Homo sapiens: one gene and its partners. The protein of the gene in region 1 purifies or fractionates together with the protein of each later gene. This does not show direct contact. Each region holds a gene or a part of one and is shown on either strand. Other genes may lie near its edges.

Region 1 (3,825 bases):
AAGTAGAATGGTGGTTACCAGGGACAGGAAGTTGGGGGGAATGGAGAGAGACTGGTCAGAGCCTAAAATGTTACAGTTAGGTAGAATGAATGAGTCTAGAGATCTAATTTACAGCATAACGACTACAGTTAACAATACTGTATTTTATACTGAAAAGTTTCAAAGAGAAATTTCAGGTGCTCTCACCGCACACAAAAGAAAGGTAATTATGTGAACAGATGGATATGTTAATTGCTTGACTATAGTAATCATCTCACTGTGTACATATACATGTTGTGCACATTAAATATATACAACTTTTAGGAAATAATGGTTTTTTGGGTTTTTGTTTGTTTGCTTGTTTGAAATGGAGTTTCCTTGCTCTGTCTCCCAGGCAGGAGTGCAGTGGCATGATTTCGGCTCACTGCAACTTCCGCCTCTGGGGTTCAAGTGATTCTCCCACCTCAGCCTCCCAAGTAGCTGGGATTACAGGCACATGCCACCACACCCAGTTAATTTTTGTATTTTTAGTAGAGACAGGGTTTTGCCATGTTGGCCAGGCTGGTCTCGAACTCCTGACCTCAGGTGATCTGCCCACCTTGGCCTCCCAAAGTGCTGTGATTACAGGCGTGAGCCACCATGCCCAGCTGGAAATAATGTTTTTAAGAAAAATTAAAGCATATTGTAAATTGAATACAAATAGTAAATTGAGCAGCTGCACTAGAAGAGAATAGGTGAGAAAGTCTATTATGGTGGAGCTAATAAGTTGCAAGTCCCTGGTACAAAGAGAACAAGAAACATAAAGGTATGGGGGGCTGTATAAAATGACAGAAAATGTTATTTCTGAGACTTGTGTGACATGCCACGGGTTCTCATTAGTCCACTCCTAGTGAGACACCCCTCCCCCACAAAAAGGGGACAAAGCATATTGTTCTGATTTATAGGGTAAATAAATCACAGGTTAGTTAAGTGTATGAAGTCAAATGGACTAGAATTCAAACCTGGGCCTTACTACCAGGCACATTACTTAACTACTTGATTCAGTATCCTCATCTGACAATACTGACCAATTTACAGGATTACTGTAAGATTAAACATGGTATTGCTTGAAAACCCAAAGCAGAATGCCTAACTCATAAAATGTTTGGTAAGTGGCAGCTGTTATTAGTAAGGATCACAGACGTATTTCTTTGCGAATTAGACTTAGAGCAAAAGCTTTAGAATCTATCTGCATTAGTAAGGCCTCCTTCTACAACTAAGGATTACTGATTATCAAACTAAAATGGTCCCTAAGGAACCAAGCGGAGCCCACCCTTTTCCTAATCCAAGGTTGCTTCTGTTTACTGCTCAAGCACCTTCTGGAAGCAGCAAGGCCCCCATGGGAGCAACTCTCACTGAATCCATTTGAAGGTTTTGTAGGTCTTACAACAAACCCTATTCAGCCTTGTATTAGGCATGTTACAGAACCAACGAATTCGGAGATGAAGTCAGGTCTTCCAGTTCAGCCTGCGAGGAAGACAGGTGATCCGAATCCTAAGAATGCAAAAGATGGGCCGGGTGTGGTGGCTCATGCCTGTAATCCCAGCGCTTTGGGAGGCCGAGGCAGGCAGATCACCTGAGGTCGGGAGGTTGAGACCAGACTGACCAACAACGGAGAAACCCCGTCTCTACTTAAAAATGCAAAGTTAGCCGTGCGTGGTGGCCCATGCCTGTATTCCCAGCTACTCGGGAGGCTGAGGCAGGAGAACCACTTGATCCCTGGAGGCGGAAGTTGCGGTGAGCGGAGATTGCGCCATTGCACACCAGCCCGGGCCACAAGAGCGAAACTCCGTCTCAAAAAAAAAAGCAAAAGATACTACCAAGCCCTGCGGAGCAAGGTACCTCACACTTCATGAGCGAGTTAAGATGGGTTTCACAATTTTTCAAGCAAGGAAACGGGCTCGGAGGTCTTGAACACCTGCTACCCAATAGCAGAACAGCTACTGGAACTAAAATCCTCTGATTTCAAATAACAGCCCCGCCCACTACCACTAAGTGAAGTCATCCACAACCACACACCGACCACTCTAAGCTTTTGTAAGATCGGCTCGCTTTGGGGAACAGGTCTTGAGAGAACATCCCTTTTAAGGTCAGAACAAAGGTATTTCATAGGTCCCAGGTCGTGTCCCGAGGGCGCCCACCCAAACATGAGCTGGAGCAAAAAGAAAGGGATGGGGGACTTGGAGTAGGCATAGGGGCGGCCCCTCCAAGCAGGGTGGCCTGGGACTCTTAAGGGTCAGCGAGAAGAGAACACACACTCCAGCTCCCGCTTTATTCGGTCAGATACTGACGGTTGGGATGCCTGACAAGGAATTTCCTTTCGCCACACTGAGAAATACCCGCAGCGGCCCACCCAGGCCTGACTTCCGGGTGGTGCGTGTGCTGCGTGTCGCGTCACGGCGTCACGTGGCCAGCGCGGGCTTGTGGCGCGAGCTTCTGAAACTAGGCGGCAGAGGCGGAGCCGCTGTGGCACTGCTGCGCCTCTGCTGCGCCTCGGGTGTCTTTTGCGGCGGTGGGTCGCCGCCGGGAGAAGCGTGAGGGGACAGATTTGTGACCGGCGCGGTTTTTGTCAGCTTACTCCGGCCAAAAAAGAACTGCACCTCTGGAGCGGGTTAGTGGTGGTGGTAGTGGGTTGGGACGAGCGCGTCTTCCGCAGTCCCAGTCCAGCGTGGCGGGGGAGCGCCTCACGCCCCGGGTCGCTGCCGCGGCTTCTTGCCCTTTTGTCTCTGCCAACCCCCACCCATGCCTGAGAGAAAGGTCCTTGCCCGAAGGCAGATTTTCGCCAAGCAAATTCGAGCCCCGCCCCTTCCCTGGGTCTCCATTTCCCGCCTCCGGCCCGGCCTTTGGGCTCCGCCTTCAGCTCAAGACTTAACTTCCCTCCCAGCTGTCCCAGATGACGCCATCTGAAATTTCTTGGAAACACGATCACTTTAACGGAATATTGCTGTTTTGGGGAAGTGTTTTACAGCTGCTGGGCACGCTGTATTTGCCTTACTTAAGCCCCTGGTAATTGCTGTATTCCGAAGACATGCTGATGGGAATTACCAGGCGGCGTTGGTCTCTAACTGGAGCCCTCTGTCCCCACTAGCCACGCGTCACTGGTTAGCGTGATTGAAACTAAATCGTATGAAAATCCTCTTCTCTAGTCGCACTAGCCACGTTTCGAGTGCTTAATGTGGCTAGTGGCACCGGTTTGGACAGCACAGCTGTAAAATGTTCCCATCCTCACAGTAAGCTGTTACCGTTCCAGGAGATGGGACTGAATTAGAATTCAAACAAATTTTCCAGCGCTTCTGAGTTTTACCTCAGTCACATAATAAGGAATGCATCCCTGTGTAAGTGCATTTTGGTCTTCTGTTTTGCAGACTTATTTACCAAGCATTGGAGGAATATCGTAGGTAAAAATGCCTATTGGATCCAAAGAGAGGCCAACATTTTTTGAAATTTTTAAGACACGCTGCAACAAAGCAGGTATTGACAAATTTTATATAACTTTATAAATTACACCGAGAAAGTGTTTTCTAAAAAATGCTTGCTAAAAACCCAGTACGTCACAGTGTTGCTTAGAACCATAAACTGTTCCTTATGTGTGTATAAATCCAGTTAACAACATAATCATCGTTTGCAGGTTAACCACATGATAAATATAGAACGTCTAGTGGATAAAGAGGAAACTGGCCCCTTGACTAGCAGTAGGAACAATTACTAACAAATCAGAAGCATTAATGTTACTTTATGGCAGAAGTTGTCCAACTTTTTGGTTTCAGTACTCCTTATACTCTTAAAAATGATCTAGGACCCCCGGAG
Region 2 (3,725 bases), on another chromosome or scaffold:
TCAGACAGAAAATAAGATTCTGAGTCATAGAGAGTAGCATATCCAGTCTGGAGGAATCGCAAATGGACAGTGGGAAGGGAGAGAGAAAATATGTGCCCAGTCTTACTTTCCTGACTTACCCATCATTAAAACTGGGAGGACTAGCACGATAAACAGAGAAGGGAAAGATCAAAAGGACCCTAGATCCTAGAAATAAGGACAAAAATTAAAATGATTCAACATAAAGAAAAGACTCCAGCACATACAGCTATTCAAGGGAGAAACCTGGAAAGCAGCAACAGCCTAGAAAAGATGGGAGGTGAGGCGCAGACAGCCAAAAAAGCTGAGTTTGGTAGGAAACAGAAGACAAACACCACTGTGCCTGCAACATAATTAGCAAAGAATCAAAGCACCATGCACAAAACCACAATGGCAAGTAGACCTGAGACTGACTCTGCCTTGCTGAGGAGGCTGAGGGCAGACACCTAAAATGAAGAAATCTTGTTTTAAAAATACTAATCCTGGGTCCCTCTGACTCCCATTCTTATTCTGATTTTAGGTCTGAAATGGATCTGTATTTTAATAAGGACCCATGTAGTTCTACTGTAAGTTGTCCAAGAACCACAGTTTGAGAAGCACTGATCCAGAAGTCTGAAGAACTGCTTAGAGTAAGTGCATCAAGGCTAATAGCAATTAGCAATTCATTTTCAGAAGAGTTTTCATATGGGATTGTGTCAGAGATCATCTCTTGGGGAGAGATGTCACTTAGTGCCATCTTAAAATAAATCAATGCTCTGGAGGATGTTCTCCTGGGAATGTCTGTTGGCCCAACACATTTGCCTCTCTGAACATTACCACAGTGAATTCCAAGAGGTAACACCAGACAGAAGGGGAATTCTGGGTAGCAAAGCTCTAGGACAGGCCCATTACCCACTAAAGCATTCCTTTATGGTCAGAGCTTGACATTAGAGATGGAGACACCCACCTATACTTACCTGTGCAAAGAGGGAGATGCTGTACTGTCCCATTAAACCCTTGCTCCCTGTTCTCAGACAAAAATTCACTTCTTGCCTTAAACGGTGATACAGCACAGCTATCCAAAAAAGCTGGTGTCTTCCCTTCCACCAATCACTGAATTCAGGGACATTTGCTGAGTGATCTGGTGCCTTTGGACGTAAGGGGCAACCAAGACCTGGAAAACCAGAAACCTTTCTGTAGCATGGGGGTTTAAAGTCAGACTGGGTGGACACTTGGTTGACCTAAACCTTGTTGAGATGCCTTGATCCTGTCTCTTGGGTGACAGGAACACTTCCCAAATGGGAACTTTCTAGGTACTTCAGCTCCCTTTCTTAGTGCTTGGTGGCAGATGGTACCTACTGAGAATCAAAAAAGGTTCACCAGGCAGCCTGGCAGTAGTAGTAGCTCCAGTCACCAAGCATGCAGCTGCTGGCTAGCTGCCTTGAGACCCTTGGCAGGACAGCCAGGGGCTGACTGGATTACCACATCTCCTCAGCAGAGAACCACATTCCTTGAGCTGCCAGCCCCATATGTGACAACAGATCCCATCACCTTGGCTTCTGCTTTGTAACTGTTTGTCTTCAGCCAGATGTTTCTGGCTACTATGGAAAAGTGGAACTGTGCTAAGATGGAGAACTGGCAGGCTGTGTGCAGGAGCTGGGCAAGAGCCCTGGCTTATGAAAGAAGCTAGAGAGGTCTGTCAGAGCTACCAACATCAGATTCTGTCTCTTAATGATTTAAACGATTATTCCACAATTAGGCCGGAAGGGTTAGAAGAGCAGCTGTTGGGACTGGGATTCCAGGTGGTGAAAAGCAGAGACCAGCTTCTGCTTAAGAGAAGCAAAAGAAGAATATTTAAATGAAAACTCAACTTCCATCCTCAAATATCTAGATAAGAAAATAGACTTGATGAACATCCCACAATGACATCTCCTATTCACCCAATGTCAAATATTTCCAGCCATATGGAATTCAAGATCAGAACTTTCTTGTCATTGTGATATCAAGAGGACAGAATGACTTGTTTTCCTTTCAGAAGCTTGGTGGGACATGATGTTATGTTACCCATCATTGGTTCTGCTAGTTACCACCTAGAAATGATAAAGAGGATGCTTTATTTTTATTTATTTATTTTTTTTTGAGATTCTCTTTCATTCATTCATTCACTTTCTACTAAGTGTCAGGTTCCGCATGAAGTTCTTGGACTTCATAAAGATAAAACAGACACAGTCTCTATTCTCAAGGAGCTCACAGCCCAGGAGAAGAGAGTGACATGGAAACAAATAACTGCAGTTTGGTGTGACAAGTACTGACATGAGAATGTGTAAGAGGTACAATGATAGCACAAGGAACGAGTGATCAATTCTATTAAGATGGATGCCACAGAAAGTAAAAAGCTTGCAGGTAGCTGGAGATAGGGGACAGGAGGGCATTCCAAGTAAAGGTACCCTGGCAAGAAGGCACTTTGACAAATTCAAGAAGCTTGAAAAGTGGCTCAGTGTAGTTGGACAGAGGATATCTGTAGGAGACAGGAGGGAGAAGAGGCTGGAGAGGAAAGGACCACACCAGGCCACCCACTTTCTATCACTTTGTATATAATGGGTGCTATCTCTAGTTTTTTTATTTAAAACAAATGCTTCCCATTCCAGATATTCAACAGCCATCTACATGCACAGCACTAAATGAGGGACCTGAGGGATATCCCTCTAAGGAGCTTACACTGAACCGAATTGGGTGGATTAAACACATACGCTACACAGCTAAAGAAGACAAAAAATGGACCAACAAGTACATCCAACTATAAATGGTACAGATTGCACAAAGTACTAAGGAAATTCACAGGTTCTTGGATTCTGACAAAGCTTGAATACTATCTAATTAGAGAACTGTTCAAATGCTTGAATCCCCTTGACAAAACCCTGGCTAAATGAGCACCTATGGGACGTGGGACGTTCACTCAGGCACGTTAGTCTGGCTGAGGCCAAAAGGCCACGAACCACAGGATGCCCAGAAGGCTTTTATGGCAATATAAGAGAGACGTGCCTTAGACAAGACAGGGTCCTAGACAGGACCTTTTCTCCACTGGTGAAATGAATGGGATGATTAAGAATACAGCAACTGCCTAAAGTCTTCATCTTCCATCATAATTATAACCCACAGAAAAAAAACATTTCATGGCATACTATTACTTTTTACAGCTTGTTCCCTCACACACACACACAAAAAGCTTTAAAAATAAGCATTTCATTGGGTCCTTTATGCATCTCCAGATTAAAAGTTTCACGTAGAAGTAAGGAAGTATTCAGTTTATCTGAAGATACTTGCAGGCCTCTGGGGAATGCAGCACATATTCTAGGGTGTGAGGAAAGGCCTTTGATAGTCCAGAGCTTCCACAAATGAAGCCTGCTGGTCATGGATGGGCTTGACTACAGCCCTTCCTTACTCCTTATGACTGTGTGATAGCTCTGGTCCTGGCTGGGAGGTCACACCACTGTCCCCTCATTACCCTTCCAAGCCTAGGGGAGCTGCCATACAGTGAAGGCACAAGCAATGGCACTCACCCTCATGGAGGTCTCTCCACCATGGGCCTGTTGCAGCCTGAAGACCTGGGCCACCATGTGCTCTGTGGAGGGGTGCAGCAGGATCCTTCGTGAGGCCAAGCCCACCATTACATATCTGCCCATTGGGGACAGGCTCACCGAAATGGCATTGGGACCTGAGGGCCAACA
Region 3 (3,500 bases), on another chromosome or scaffold:
AGTAGCTGGGACTACAGATGTGAGTCACCATGCCCAGCTAATTTTTGTATTTTTAGTAGAGATGGGGTTTCACCATGTTGGCCAGGATGGTCTCGACCTCCTGACCTTGTGATCTGCCCACCTCGGCCTCCCAAAGTGCTGGGATTACAGGCGTGAGCCACCATGCCTGGCCATATTAGTCCATTTTTAACAGCTTAAAAGCTTTCAAGGACTTTGGTAGATCCTGCCACCCTCCCTTCCCTCTTCCCCTCTCCAGACACCTTCATGTCTTCCCAGTCAAACCTCTCCTTCCTCTCCAGTCCTTTCTGGGTGATATCCCAGTACTCAATAGGAAAGGAACACCAGTTACTTAGGAATATGTCAGGTGAGCCTCAGACCTCCACAGTGTAATACCAGTGTTGAAGAGGGTAGCTTGGACCAGGCCCGGGGGCTTAAGCAGGAATTTGAATGGAGCCCAAAACCTAGAAGCAGCAAATTCCCAGAAGACCAGGAATGAAAGATGGGTAGAGTGCATATTTTGGTTTGGATGCCTAGGTTGATCAGCATTCTCCACCTCCTGACTGCGGCCACAATATTGACAGGTTGCTAAGAGTTCCTCGAGGGCTGGAGCCCATCCCAGGGAAAGAGGAAAGCTGCATGGCTTGGCCTTGCCAGACCCACGGAGGCTCATCGCTGACCTCTGTCTTGCTGTGGCAAGAAGCCCAGACTTGTTATATAAAAGATCTGGCCTACAGCTGGAGCCTGAGCAAAAACACACAGCCTAGGGCCCATGCCTCTAAACTCAGCCAGGGAACATCTGAGGCCAACCCTGCCTTCAGTTGACAAAGAGAAAGCTATCTGAGGAGTGGGATGGTGACTTCCTAGAAGGCTGAAAGCAGGAAATGACAGAGGCAGAAATAGGTGGGCTACACAGAAGCCTGCCATCTGACAAACAGGGATGCAATAATGAGCTTACACACTCAAAGGAATCTCAAGTCCTGTTCCTCCAGGAAGCCCTCCTTGACTACAAACATATTTGAACTAAGCACTCCTATCAAAAGACAAAGTTATGTGTGCTCCCAGGCCTGTGAGGAGGAAGCATAATTTATCCTACTTGCCTTTTCCAAAGGATAAAGGGAATGGCAGTGCCCAGGGCTCCCAGGAAGGAAGCCTACTCTCTCTCCTTCCTGGAGGGTATTCTCCTTTCACAGTCTATTTGTAGATCCAAAGAGGGCCATGATTTTAACTGCAGCAAATTCTTGTTGATTCAAGGTGGGGTATTCCCATGAGAATTCCCCTTCTTTAAACTTTGCCAGATATTTGGCTCCATCTCATCCCTTGGCTGTCTGTTTACTGGCCCTCATAGAACTGGAATCCAGACTCATGGAGGCCAAATCTTGTCCTCATTTCCTTATTCTTCATTCCAACATGCCAAGAACAGTACTGGGCATTCAAACATTCACTAACAACATTTGAAAATGGATCGCATTAACAAAATAAATAAAGGAAAGAAACTGACATGATGTGGTCAGAAGAGGTACCAAGCACTTTCATGTGTCATTTGGCCATCATGCCACCTACACAGAGGCAGACCACGCACTCTCCACCCAGTTTGCAAAGGAAGAGCTGACTTGCCCAATGTCCCCCAGGGTGAAGGGCTGACTCGGACCCTCATGTCCTAGCCACCCTGTTTCTGCCTATCTCGAAATAACTCATTTGCTCTGAAGATGAACAAGAGTGCGTTTAAACTGCATCAAAAGGGAGATTTGACTCTTAACAACTTAGCTGCTAAGAATGAAGTCCTGAATCAGATTAAGAAATGTCTGTATAATTTCACATATGAGATACGTTCGTGCTAGCTTATCCAAAAATTGGTAAATGAACTGGATGATCTGCAGAGATTCTTTCCGAGCTTGGGATTCTTAATGAAAAGACTGTCTTAATGAAAATACTGAAGGAGAGGAAGCTGGCTCCCCAGTCCTTGAATGGGTACACTGAAATCCCAGTCGGGGCTGCTGGCAAGGAAGAATTCTCCATTATCTGAGAACTTCCCATTCCTATGGCTCCAGTGGGATCTATTCTGGCTCAGCATACTTTTTGGCCACTTCTTTGGGAAATACAAACTCAATAGAATGTTGGCCTTGGTTTAATTTTAGCAAGGTAAATCTCATTTTTTATTTTTTTTATTTTTTTGAGATGGAGTCTTGCTCTGTCACCCAGGATGGAATGCAATGGCGTGATCTCAGCTCACTGCAACCTCTCCCTCCAAGGTTCAAGCGATTCTCCCGCCTCAGCCTCCCAAGTAGCTGGGACTGCAGGCACCCACCACCACGCCCAGCTAATTTTTGTATTTTTAGTAGAGACGGGGTTTCACCATGTTAGCCAGGCTGGTTTCAAACTCTTGACCTCAGGTGATCCGCCTGCCTAGGCCTCCAAAAGTGCTGAGATTATAGGCGTGAGCCACTGCGCCCAGCCTAAATCTCATTTTTTAAAAAGCTAGAATAAACTCTAAAGTCAGCTGTTGATTACCCCGACACAAATACTCAAAGCTAAACTGAAAAACCCAGATTGACTTCTCTCTTCCACCAGGCAGGTGGAATGCAAACTCATTTCCATATAAGTTTACAAAGAAAAACGGTGGTAAATTAGCAGGGCGTGGTAGCAGGCACCTGTAATCCCAGCCACTTGGGAGGATGAGGCACGAGAATCACTTGAACCCGGGAGGCAGAGGTTGCAGTGAGCCAAGATCGCACCACTGCACTCCAGCCTGGGTGACAAAAGGAAACTCTGTCTTAAGAAGATAAAACATTACATGGATAATATGTACGACCAAAACCCAAGACAAATCATCGCAATGACTTGAGGAAGACCAAAGGCCTCCTCAGCCAGCTCTCCCGCCCCATCCTTATCCCTTATCCCATCAGGAGAGAGCTTCATTACCTGGGTGGCCTTGTCATTGGTGCAGCAGGTGAAGGCCCCATCAGCATCTCGTGGCCACTGGCCCAGAAGGTAGGAGCTGAGGATGGTGTCCAGGGAGAATGTACGCCGGACCTGAAGTGGCTGAGGCCTACACACTGACTTTTCTGGGGCCACCGAGCATGGGACGCTGGCTGCAAGAGAACACAGCCCGCACGCCTTGCCATCAGCATGGAGGAAGGAGACGTGGCAATCACCTTCCTCTTCTAAGAGATGTGGCCTGCCTGCCCCGTCTTCACTCATATCCACCACTGTCCTAAAAGAATTTGAAGCAGCCTGAAACAGCACATATGGTCTGACAAGACCTTTCCTGACCTACTCAGCCAGCCTTTATCATGGGAAACAATTTATACCATTTTACTTTGGACTTGGATGTTACTTTATAAATGTCCTCTATCCTTTTCCTGCTCCTAATGGACTATGAACCGTGAACTCCTAGATCTCCACACTGAGTTTCCTGAGAGCAGCACTGTTTCCCATCATTAAAGATAAAACTCTAAGTGGATAAAAAACAAATTTTCTTCCATCTTTTATCTCCTGCCCTT

The links.
Region 2: the proteins of ZAR1L (region 1) and AMBRA1 purify together in Homo sapiens (co-immunoprecipitation; one large-scale study listed by IntAct). This does not show direct contact.
Region 3: the proteins of ZAR1L (region 1) and FAM117A purify together in Homo sapiens (affinity purification with mass spectrometry; one large-scale study listed by BioGRID and IntAct). This does not show direct contact.

The regions. Positions count from the first base shown.
Region 1 is NC_000013.11:32,313,039-32,316,863, forward strand, and holds the start of ZAR1L (protein ZAR1-like), read right to left. Parts: upstream 2,326-3,825; 5' UTR 2,277-2,325; intron 2,108-2,276; exon of another isoform or gene 2,039-2,107; intron 1,513-2,038; 5' UTR 1,292-1,512; intron 1-1,291. Other genes in the region: BRCA2 (breast cancer type 2 susceptibility protein), read left to right, coding at 3,423-3,489. UniProt on the Homo sapiens protein: mRNA-binding protein required for maternal mRNA storage, translation and degradation during oocyte maturation.
Region 2 is NC_000011.10:46,429,917-46,433,641, forward strand, and holds part of AMBRA1 (activating molecule in BECN1-regulated autophagy protein 1), read right to left. Parts: intron 3,713-3,725; coding exon 3,558-3,712; intron 1,172-3,557; exon of another isoform or gene 975-1,171; intron 1-974. UniProt on the Homo sapiens protein: Substrate-recognition component of a DCX (DDB1-CUL4-X-box) E3 ubiquitin-protein ligase complex involved in cell cycle control and autophagy.
Region 3 is NC_000017.11:49,729,632-49,733,131, forward strand, and holds part of FAM117A (protein FAM117A), read right to left. Parts: intron 3,090-3,500; coding exon 2,920-3,089; intron 1-2,919.